2 separate regions of the Homo sapiens genome follow, and region 2 is linked to region 1. The links come from fine-mapping of genetic effects on gene expression. Tissue or cell type: whole blood. Region 1 holds a variant in brackets; the other region holds the start of a gene. All regions are shown on one strand. Distances are from middle to middle.

What was found. PIP is the estimated chance that this variant, and not a neighbour inherited with it, causes the effect.
Region 2: it holds the start of FAM229A, and the variant in region 1 is fine-mapped to the expression of FAM229A in whole blood (INTERVAL, PIP 0.99).

The regions. Positions count from the first base shown.
Region 1 is chr1:32,398,132-32,403,278 of GRCh38, forward strand. It overlaps the pseudogene GAPDHP20. Among named protein-coding and RNA genes, the nearest start is that of BSDC1, 6.3 kb to the left of the region's middle. RefSeq lists an enhancer at 2,662-2,781. The variant G/A (reference allele first, on the strand shown) is at 2,985.
Region 2 is chr1:32,360,353-32,365,499 of GRCh38, forward strand. It overlaps FAM229A (family with sequence similarity 229 member A), which reads right to left and starts at 2,133. Exons shown (of 3, transcript NM_001167676.2): 1 at 1,606-2,133; 2 at 1,378-1,524; 3 at 918-1,183. The coding sequence starts at 1,739. The coding sequence ends at 1,081. It overlaps TSSK3 (testis specific serine kinase 3), which reads left to right and starts at 2,187. Exons shown (of 2, transcript NM_052841.4): 1 at 2,187-2,494; 2 at 3,243-3,960. The coding sequence starts at 2,350. The coding sequence ends at 3,904. It overlaps BSDC1 (BSD domain containing 1), which reads right to left. Exons shown (of 11, transcript NM_018045.8): 11 at 4,281-5,147. It overlaps LOC124903933 (a long non-coding RNA gene), which reads left to right. Exons shown (of 3, transcript XR_007065642.1): 3 at 1-976. RefSeq lists silencers at 1,415-1,714, 1,865-2,064.

The sequences.
Region 1 (5,147 bases):
AGCTGGGATTACAGGTGCCCACCACCATGCTCTGCTAATTTTTGTATTTTTAGTGGAGACAGGTTTTCACCATGTTAGTCAGGCTGGTCTTGAACTCCTGACCTTGGGCGATCCACCCACCTCGTCCTCCCAAAGTGCCAGGATTACAGGTATGAGCCACCATACCCAGCCCTGGCTAATTTTTTGAGGTTGAGGCTGCAGTGAGCTGTGACCATGCCACTACATTACTGCCTGTGCAATGGAGAGACCTTGTCTTTAAAACAAAGAAAAACATGTGTGTGTGTGTGTGTATATATATATATATGTATATGTATATACATGCCAGATTACAGCCTTCCTCTGCCCAAAGTTCTGCAATGTCCTCTTATTTCACTCAGAGAAAAAGCCAATAAGTCCTCACAGTCTCCTTTAAGGCCCCGTATAGTTGATCTGACCTCACATTACTGGCCCCCTTAGTCACTCTGCTCCAGACACATTGGCTACTTTGATATTCCCTGAAAATTCCCGGGACTCTCCTGACTTGGGGCCTTTCAACTTGCTGTTCCTTTTGTTTAGACTGCACTTACCTCCAGATATTTATGTGCTTCTAACTTTCACCTCATTCAGATCTTTACTTGAATATAATCTTCTTACTCACCCTGACCACATTATTTAAAATCACAAGTTGCATAACAAGCACCCCCATTTCTCTTCTCTGACATATTGTATATTATACTTTGTTTAAAAAATTGTTTGCCTCCTTCAGACTAGAAATGCAACCTCAATGAAGGCAGGATTTTTGTCTGTCTTGTTCACTTGTCTACGGCTAGCACCTACAACAGTGTTTGGTACATAATAGACACTCAATATTTGTTCAGTGAATGAAAGAATAAATGCAAGGAGAGTGAGGACAAAGACAGGACTAATTTAGAGCAATCTGGAATAGCTAAAAAGAAAAAGGAAAAGAGAGGATGGACGTGAGGCTGTAAAGGTCATTAACATCTCGATTCTTGAGAGCCTTGAATGCAGGACTTAAAATTCATGGACAGAGGAGAGTCACCAAAGGTTTGGAATAAGGAAATGATTTGTGTTGTGAAGATGATGTGATCAAATGATTGAATGCTACTGTTAACAGATCTAACGGTGCCATTGGGGTGAGCACTTTATACAGTGTACCTTCCCAAAAGCTCAATGAGGTGGGAACTATTTTTAATCTACATTTTATAAATGAAGAAGGTGACCAGGCACGGTGACTCATGTAATCCCAGCATTTTGGGAGGCTGAGATGGAAGGATTGCTTGAGCCCAGAAGTTTGAGACCAGTATGGGCAACATAATGGCACCCTATCTCTATTATTATTATTATTATTTTGAGACAGTTTCACTGTGTCGCCCAGGCTGGAGTGCGGTGGTGCAATCTTGGCTTACTGCGACCTCAGCCTCCCAGGTTCAAGCGATTCTCCTGCCTCAACCTCCTGAGTAGCTGGGATTACAGGCGTGCACCACCACACCCAGCTAATTTTTGTATTTTTAGTAGAGACAGGGTTTCGCCATGTTGGCCTGGCTGGTCTTGAACTGCTGACCTCAGGTGATCCGCCTGCCTCAGCCTCCCAAAGTGCTGGGATTACAGGCATGAGCCACTGTGCCCGGCCTCTATTATTTTTTTTTAAATAAAAGTGAAAAAGCTAAGATTCTGAGATATGGGGTGACTTTCTCAAGGTAACACAGCTAGGAAATGGCAGAACTCGGATTTGAACCCAAGGCTGTCTAATAAAATCAAGCTTCTGTGCATTTCATGCTAGTCTTAACTTCTTCCAACCTTATGTCCTGCCTCCCCACCCAGATGATAGCTGCAGGCATCCTGTCCTTCGTTATCTTCACCTTGTCTCATTCCTCACCCCCAGGCCCAGCAGAGTGCTCGCCCATGATGTCCCTAGTGACTGTGGATTCAGTGGGACCCTTTGCTTGGGTTTCTTTGGTCTTCCTTATCTGTTCACCCCAGTACCTTGACCGTTGGCTCCTTTCACTGCCATAACCTCTGGCATCAAACATATTCATCCTTTTTTTTTTTTTTTTTTTGAGGCAGGTCTCACTCTGTCACCCCAGCTGGACTGCACTAGCATGATCATGGCTCACTGCAGCCTCAGCCTTCTAGGCTCAAGTGATCCTCCTGCCTCAGCCTCCTGAGTAGCTGGGACCACAGGCATGTGCCACCATGCCTAATTTAATTTTTTTTTTTTTTGTAGAGATGGAGTCTTGCTATGTTGCCTAGGCTGGTCTACGAACCCCTAGGATCTAGCGATCCACCTGCTTTGGCTTTCCAAAGTATTGGGATTACAGGCATAAACCACTGTGCCCGGCCAATGTCTTCATCCTTAACATTGGGATACTAATTCTGGTTGTTGTAATGACTAAAGAAAATAAATAAAACACCTAGCACATTGCAAGGCATAAAGTCCTCATGTAGGGATTATGATTGTCTTACCTCCTTACCCCTGTCCTCAGAGCCTCATACAATGCTAGGCGCTGGTAGAGGGCTAATGGACATCTGTTGAGTTAAACAGTATGTTGAAAGAACACTGGTTTGGGAGTCAGCAGAGCTAGATTTTAATACTGGTTTATGGGCAGTTGTCACTTTTTCTCTCTGAAATTCAGTTTTTTCACTGTCCTTGGGGCCTCTACAGTCTCCTGCAGCTCTTAGGCAAAGTATGAATGCAGGTAAATCCCACACCCTCAGACCCTCCTTTGACTCAAATCCCCCCTCTGACACTGCTGGACCCCTTTTGGCAGATGATTTTTTTCCTACTCCCCCTACCCACCCCATTAGAATTGGCAGGTGATTCTTATCCCAGGATCCTGGCTTTTGCTCCCAAGGAGCCCTGACACCCAGGTGCCACCAGATGGTGCTGTGGACTCATTCTTCACGGGAAGCTGGCTCCCGGGCTCCCCGGCTCCCTATCTCCCCGGCTCCTAGGAGAGGCCTTCTGGCTCCTCTGGACAGGGTGG[G/A]GTTCCTCCGTGGAAGGCTGCTAGGCCTGGGATAATCCTGGGAGGTGACTCAAGCCTTTCAGAAATTTCCAAGGCCCAAGCCCGCCCTCGGTTTGGCGTGCAGATTCCAGCATAGAGTTGGCAGGAGGACTGGCTGCGTAATTTGTAGAACCCAGTGTAAGACCAAAATGCCTAAGTTACTGATGCAGGCAGCACAGGGAATGCCTAAAAGCCCATGGACTGGTTCTAGTTCAGCCCTCTAGAGCTGATTGTTAACATTTCAGGAATTTTGGCCGGGTGTGGTGGCTCACGCCTGTAGTCTCAGCTACCTGGGAGGCTGAGGCAGCAGAATCACTTCAGCCTGAGAGGCAGAGGTTGCAGTGAGCAGGGATCGAGCCACTGCACTCCACCCTGGGTGACAGAGGGAGACCCTGTCTCAAAAAAAAAAAAAAAGAAAGAAAAAGAAAAAAAGGAATTTTAAAAGCTGGTTGTTGAACACGGACATTATTTAATTAAATTTTATAAACTTACCATTAAATAAGTTATAGAGCTGGGTGTGGTGGCTCACACCTATAATCGCAACTTTTCAGGCGGCTGAAGCAGGATGATCGCTTGAGCCCAGGAGTTCAAGGTTACAGCGAGGTATGATTACACTATTGTACTCCAGCCTGGGTGACAGAGCAAGAGCTCATTTCTAAAAAATAAATAAATAAAATAAAAACAAAGGTAATAAATAACCCAAACTCATCACTATGTAATTACTTTTATATATTTCACTATCATTTATGCTCACTTTACTTTTTTTGGCTGGGTACAGGGGACTTTATTGATGGTACATGACAAAGTGCGGTCTCATAGTCCCCTCCCATTCTTCAGGGAGCCTGGCATGGAAACAGTGTTCAGGAGGGGGAGATTCTCAGTGTGGTGGGGGACTGAGTTTGGCAGGGACTCCCCAGCAGCTGAGGGCCTCTCTTCTTCTCGTGCTGTCACTGGGGCTGGTGGTTCAGAGGGCCCTTACTCCTAGGAGGCCATGTAGACCATAAGGTATATCGTTCTGTTGCTGTAGCCAAATTCATTGTCATATCAGGAAATGAGCTTGACAAAGTGGTCTTTGAGGGCAATGCCATTCCCAGCATTGAAGGTGGAAAAGGTGGGTGTCTCTGTTAAAGTTGGAGGAGGCAACCTGGTGCTCTGTGTAGCTCAGGAGGCCCTTGAGGGTGGCCTCCGATGCCAGTTTCACCACCTTCTTGATGTCATCATATTTGGGCAGCTCTCTCCAGATGGCAGATCAGGTCTACAACCCACATGTTGGCAGTGGAGACATGGAAGGCCATGCCAGTGGGCTTTCTGTTAAGCTCAGGGATGGCCTTGCCCACAGCCTTGGTAGAGTGGGTAAATGCAGGGATGATGTCCTGGAGAGTCCTGTGGCCATCACGCCACAGTTTCCCAGAGAGGCCATCCACAGTCTTCTGGGTGGCAATATTGGCACCAACTGTGGCCATGAGTCCCTCCATGATGCCAAAGTTGTCATGGATGACCTTGGGCAGGGCAGCTAAACAATTGGCAGTACAGGAAGCGTTGCTGACAATCACAAGGTTGTTTTCATACTTCTCAAGGTTCACGGCCATCACAAACATGGGGGCATCAACAGAGAGAGCAGATATGACCCTTTTGGTTGCACCCTCTAAGTGAGCCCCAGCCTTCTCCAAGGCAGTGAAGATGCCAGTGGACTTCATAACATAATCAGCGTCAGGACCAGCCCATTTGATTTTGATGGGATTTTGTTCCTGGAAGATGGTGATGGGATTTCCATTGGTGACAAACTTCTTGTTCTTAGCCTTGATGGTGCCTTGGAACTTGTCATGGGTGGAGTCATACTAGAACATGTAGACCATGGAGTTGACCTGAATGAAGTGGTCATAGATGGTGACACTATCCACTTTGCTAGAGTTAAAAGCAGCCCTGGTAAACAGGCTTCCAATATGGTCCCATCTATTTACTCTGGCCTTCACTCACACCATGATGTCTCAAGGCTGCTGCTGGTGCTACACGAGATGTGTCTGTATGTTGTATGGCAAGAGCAGAGAGCTCATCTGTGTTCTTGAAGTAACTTACATTTATTGTATCTATATGGTGGAAATACTATATAATAGTGTACTTTTTTTTTTTTTTGAGACGGAGTTT
Region 2 (5,147 bases), 38 kb before region 1:
ATTACAGGTGCGTACCACCACACCCAGCTAATTTTTGTATTTTTAGTAGAGACGGGGTTTCGCCATGTTGGCCAGGCTGGTCTCGAACTCCTGACCTTGTGATCCACCTGCCTCGGTCTCCCAAAGTGCTGGGATTACAGGCGTGAGCCACCGCGCCTGGCAAGCCACCATTTTTCAAATGGCCTCTTCCCCAATCTTTTTATGATCACTTCAGTCCTGGGAGAAACCAAGGCTCAGGATGGACTGGGGCAGCTCCAAACCCTTCCAATAAGGAAGGTCCCAGGCACCTAGGGCCACAAAGAGCAAGTCGCAGAACTTTGTCGCAGAACTTCTCGCTCGAGAGGATTAAAATGGGTCTGGTCGGGTGCCTGTAGTCCCAGCTACTTGGGAGGCTGAGGCAGGAGAATTGTTTGAACCTGGGAGGCAGAGGTTGCAGTGAACAGAGATCATGCCACTGCAGTCCAGCCTGGGAAACAGAGCGAGACTCCATCTCATAGATAGATAGATAGATAGATAGATAGATAGATAGATAGATAGATAGATGATAGATAGATAAGATAGATAGATAGCCTGGTGTGGGTGGCCTATGGCTGTATTCTATGTTACTTGTCGGTCCACCTCTTCCTCCTGTTCCCCGCTTCTGTGGGTTGCCAGGGTCCAGCACAGTGATGTGAATTTCACCGGAGAATCACCAGAGGGTTAGAGAGATGGACCAGGGCAGGGCCCAAGGGAAAGGCTGCCCAGGAGGGGTCAGGACCAGCAAGATACGAGAGGAGTGAAGTGGCGTAGGTTGAAAGGCGGAAGGGCGGGCCCCTAAGGCTGGGTCCAAACGAGGAGGCTGCGGAAGGGAAAGTGTTATTGGACTGGGCAGAGCAGCTGGTGGGCCCGACGGATAGACATACACTGCCAGCCCGGAGTGGAAAGAACAGTTTGTGCTGTGCTTTATTAAAATGTGCATCATTCTTTTATTTTAAAATGTGCATCATTGTCTCGTGCTCGGCGCATGCGACCTCAGCGTGGTGGCCCGCTGGGGGCCTCGTTCCCGCCCAGCTCCCGCGGAGCCGCAGGGAGCAGGCGCACTCACGTGGCGCGGGCCCGGGGGCTCCCGCCCATGGCGAGGTAGACGTCGATGGGCACGTGCAGCAGCGTCAGGCAGTGGCATCCAGGGCAGCGACGAAGCGGCCTGGGGAAATTGACGCGCGACAGGGGCCGCTGAGGCAGGGGCTTGGCCCATCCTGTGGGGCGCACCCAGGGAGTGCACCTGGGGTCCCCGGGGGTCCGGACGTGGATGCGGGGTCCTGACTGCTGGGGGCGCCAAGTGGGACGGAGGGCGGGGCCGCGGGACGGGCGGAGGCGGGGGTGGGGCGCGGGCCTTACCTGACCGGGTTGTGCTCCGTCGCTACCGCCTCCGGGCTGTCCTGGGACTCGGGGGCGGCGGCAAGGCCACGGGAGTCTCCGGCCTCAATGGGGAATCTCCGACCCTGCGGGGGCTCCTGGGCGCTCATGTCCAAGCCCCGGGGCGCTCTGCGCGGGGAGTGGCGGTCAGGCCTCTCCCGGGTCGCCGGGCGCCGCCGCCTCGCGCCCGCCCCCTGGGCCGTCGCTCACCTCCCGGCGGTTGAGACCGGTCCCAGGCTAGAAGCAGCTGCCGGAGCCCTGGCCGCGGGAGAACGCTCCGGTCCAGGCGGAGCCGGGCAGGTCTCTGTGGCGTGCCCGGGCCCGGGCGTCGAGGAGGGCAGCATTGTGACCCGGGCCGCGGCGCGCTGACCTCACAGAGCACGTTCCTCCCACTGGAGAACCCCCAACGGTGCCCCCTGCCGCCCCTGGCACTCAGCGCGGGCCAGAATCGGGGACTGGAGGCCTCTGGCCATGGCGCCTGGAGACGGGGTCGCGCAGACCCCGGACACCCGAGGGGGGCGCAGCAGGCCAGGGCAACCCGCCGCGAGGCGGCGTCCACGCCGAGGAGCCGCGCATTCCCGGTCCACACAGACGCGGCGGAGCGCCCTCCCAGGCGGGACTACAACTCAATGCCTGGCACGGGGGCGGGCTCGGCGGTGACTTAATCCGGGCTGAGTTTGGTGGTGGTAGTGAGGGCAGGTAGGGGCACTGCCCATTTTGGCCAAGGGTCACACAGCATCTACATCACAATTGCACCGGAGTTTAAAAATGTCTGGCCCTGTCCCTCCCCACCACCCGCCGCTGTGTCCAGACAGAGAATGTTCTAACGCTGGGGGCGGCTGCGGATGAAGTCCTTGGGGAGAAAAGGAGCAGGCCAAGGGCGATGGTGGAGTAGAGCTGCCTCTCAGAGGCAGCATGAGCTGAGAGGGTGATAGGAAGGCGGCGCTAGACAGCATGGAGGACTTTCTGCTCTCCAATGGGTACCAGCTGGGCAAGACCATTGGGGAAGGGACCTACTCAAAAGTCAAAGAAGCATTTTCCAAAAAACACCAAAGAAAAGTGGCAATTAAAGTTATAGACAAGATGGGAGGGCCAGAAGGTGAGCCGGGGCCCCTTTGGAGGGAAGGAGGGAGGACTGGCTGAGGTGGGTGGGTGCTTCCTCCTGTTTGTTAGAACGATCATTCGATCATTCCCTGCTCCCGCTGGCCTGGAACCAAGCAAGCCCGATGGCAGCTCTGGAGTGGGTCAGTGGGGAACAGAGGGGTTCTGGGAGTCCAGGAACATTACACCCCCCCAGAATGCAAGATGAAAGTGGCATGAGGTGAAGGATCCTCAGAGGCAAAACCTGAGCCAGGCTTTCCTTTCCGGCAGGGGAACAGAGACTGGCAGAGGCCACAACCAGGGCTGGTAGAGAACAGGGGCTGGTGCCAAGGCCCGTGGAGATGGGAAAAAGGAAGACAGGGCTCATGGAAAGAATTGTGGGGTCAGGGGACAGTGGCGGGAGGAGCTGGCTCACCACCCTGTGGACAAATCAGGCCTTATAATTTGTGATTCTGTGGCTTTGTCTAAAAGTCCCTAAAGCACCTTGATATCCAGTCTCACAGACTGCTCACAACAGTCCACAAGGCTGGTGGGGAGTGCTTCTTTTGAATGATATACTAACGACAAAAATAATAGAAGTGAACATTCTTTGCAATGTCCAAGCAGCTAGACACACTTAAGACCATTAAGAAAGCCAAGAAATAAGACCCAGACAAGGTGGGCAGAAGTTGGAAGGCAGGAGACAGGTGTGAGGAGGTGGGCCTTTCTGATCTGCCAGCCCATCTCTCCTCCCCTTACTTCCTCAGAGTTTATCCAGAGATTCCTCCCTCGGGAGCTCCAAATCGTCCGTACCCTGGACCACAAGAACATCATCCAGGTGTATGAGATGCTGGAGTCTGCCGACGGGAAAATCTGCCTGGTGATGGAGCTCGCTGAGGGAGGGGATGTCTTTGACTGCGTGCTGAATGGGGGGCCACTGCCTGAAAGCCGGGCCAAGGCCCTCTTCCGTCAGATGGTTGAGGCCATCCGCTACTGCCATGGCTGTGGTGTGGCCCACCGGGACCTCAAATGTGAGAACGCCTTGTTGCAGGGCTTCAACCTGAAGCTGACTGACTTTGGCTTTGCCAAGGTGTTGCCCAAGTCACACCGGGAGCTGAGCCAGACCTTCTGCGGCAGTACAGCCTATGCTGCCCCCGAGGTGCTGCAGGGCATTCCCCACGATAGCAAAAAAGGTGATGTCTGGAGCATGGGTGTGGTCCTGTATGTCATGCTCTGTGCCAGCCTACCTTTTGACGACACAGACATCCCCAAGATGCTGTGGCAGCAGCAGAAGGGGGTGTCCTTCCCCACTCATCTGAGCATCTCGGCCGATTGCCAGGACCTGCTCAAGAGGCTCCTGGAACCCGATATGATCCTCCGGCCTTCAATTGAAGAAGTTAGTTGGCATCCATGGCTAGCAAGCACTTGATAAAAGCAATGGCAAGTGCTCTCCAATAAAGTAGGGGGAGAAAGCAAACCCAAAAACCCGCTTCTAAAATGGTGATATATATTTTACGCTTTAAGTTTACTTATCCTAAAACTTACCTACATCTACCCCAGCCTTACTACTACTCTTTCCTTTTAGAGATCTTCATGGAATCAAAGGGCCTCATTCAGACTTCCTTTTTTTTTTTTAAGAGTCTTGCTCTGTCGCCCAGGCTGGAATGCAGTGGCACGATTCCAGTTCACTGCAACTCTGCTTCCCAGGTTCAAGCGATTCTCCTGCCTCAGCCTCCCCAGTAGCTGGGATTACAGGCACCTCCCACCACGCCTGGCTATTTCTGTATTTTTAGTAGAGATGGGGTTTCACCATGTTGGCCAGGCTGGTCTGGAACTCCTGACCTTAGTGATCCACCCACCTTGGCCTCCCAAAATGTTGGGATTACAGGCATGAGCCACTGCGCCTGGCATGACAAGTGATTTTCATACTAAAGTTAATTAAAATAGACCCAAGAATCATATACAAACAGGGGGAAGAGAGGATAAAAATGACCAAGAGCAACTGAAGCCATTCTTGTTGCAACTTCCTTTCCAAAGGAAAGCAGAGGCACTGGGAGTGCAGAGATGGCCTCCCGACTCCTTGTCCCAGTGAGAGGCCTGTTGCGAGCCCTGACCCTTTCTCATCCCAAAGGCAAAGCTGAATCTGGGATGAGGACAAGGTACGTCCTCTGGACCTAGGCTATCCCCCTACCCTGTCTCTGGCTCCAAGTGGGAAGCCAGTCCTGCCCTGGCCCAGTGCAGCTGCCAAGGGGACAAAAACAGACCCCCAGACACCTTTCAGCTTCGGGTGAATCACTTTAATGCTGTTAACGGCAAGTCTGTAAAAGGTTCAGGACAAAGTTCTTTTTTCTTTCTTTTTTAATTATAAAACTAACAGCTGTTAGAATCTTTTTTTCTTTTTTTCCTTTTTTCTTTTCCCAGCTACAAAATACTCTGGGGAGATGCATTATAATTTAAAATATATAATATTGCACAAACAACCAAAAGGTTAATTAAACTAAAGAAATAATTACAAAGAGAAAAACCCCATCCCGTCAAAAAAAAGATTCAGCATTCTCTCCATCCCACCCCCTCACTGAAGGTTTGAAGTGGAAGTGACCTCACTCTCTCGGTGTCCCTGACCCACGATCCCTTTCACTCATTGGTGAGCACACCAGATTAGGTACAAGAAT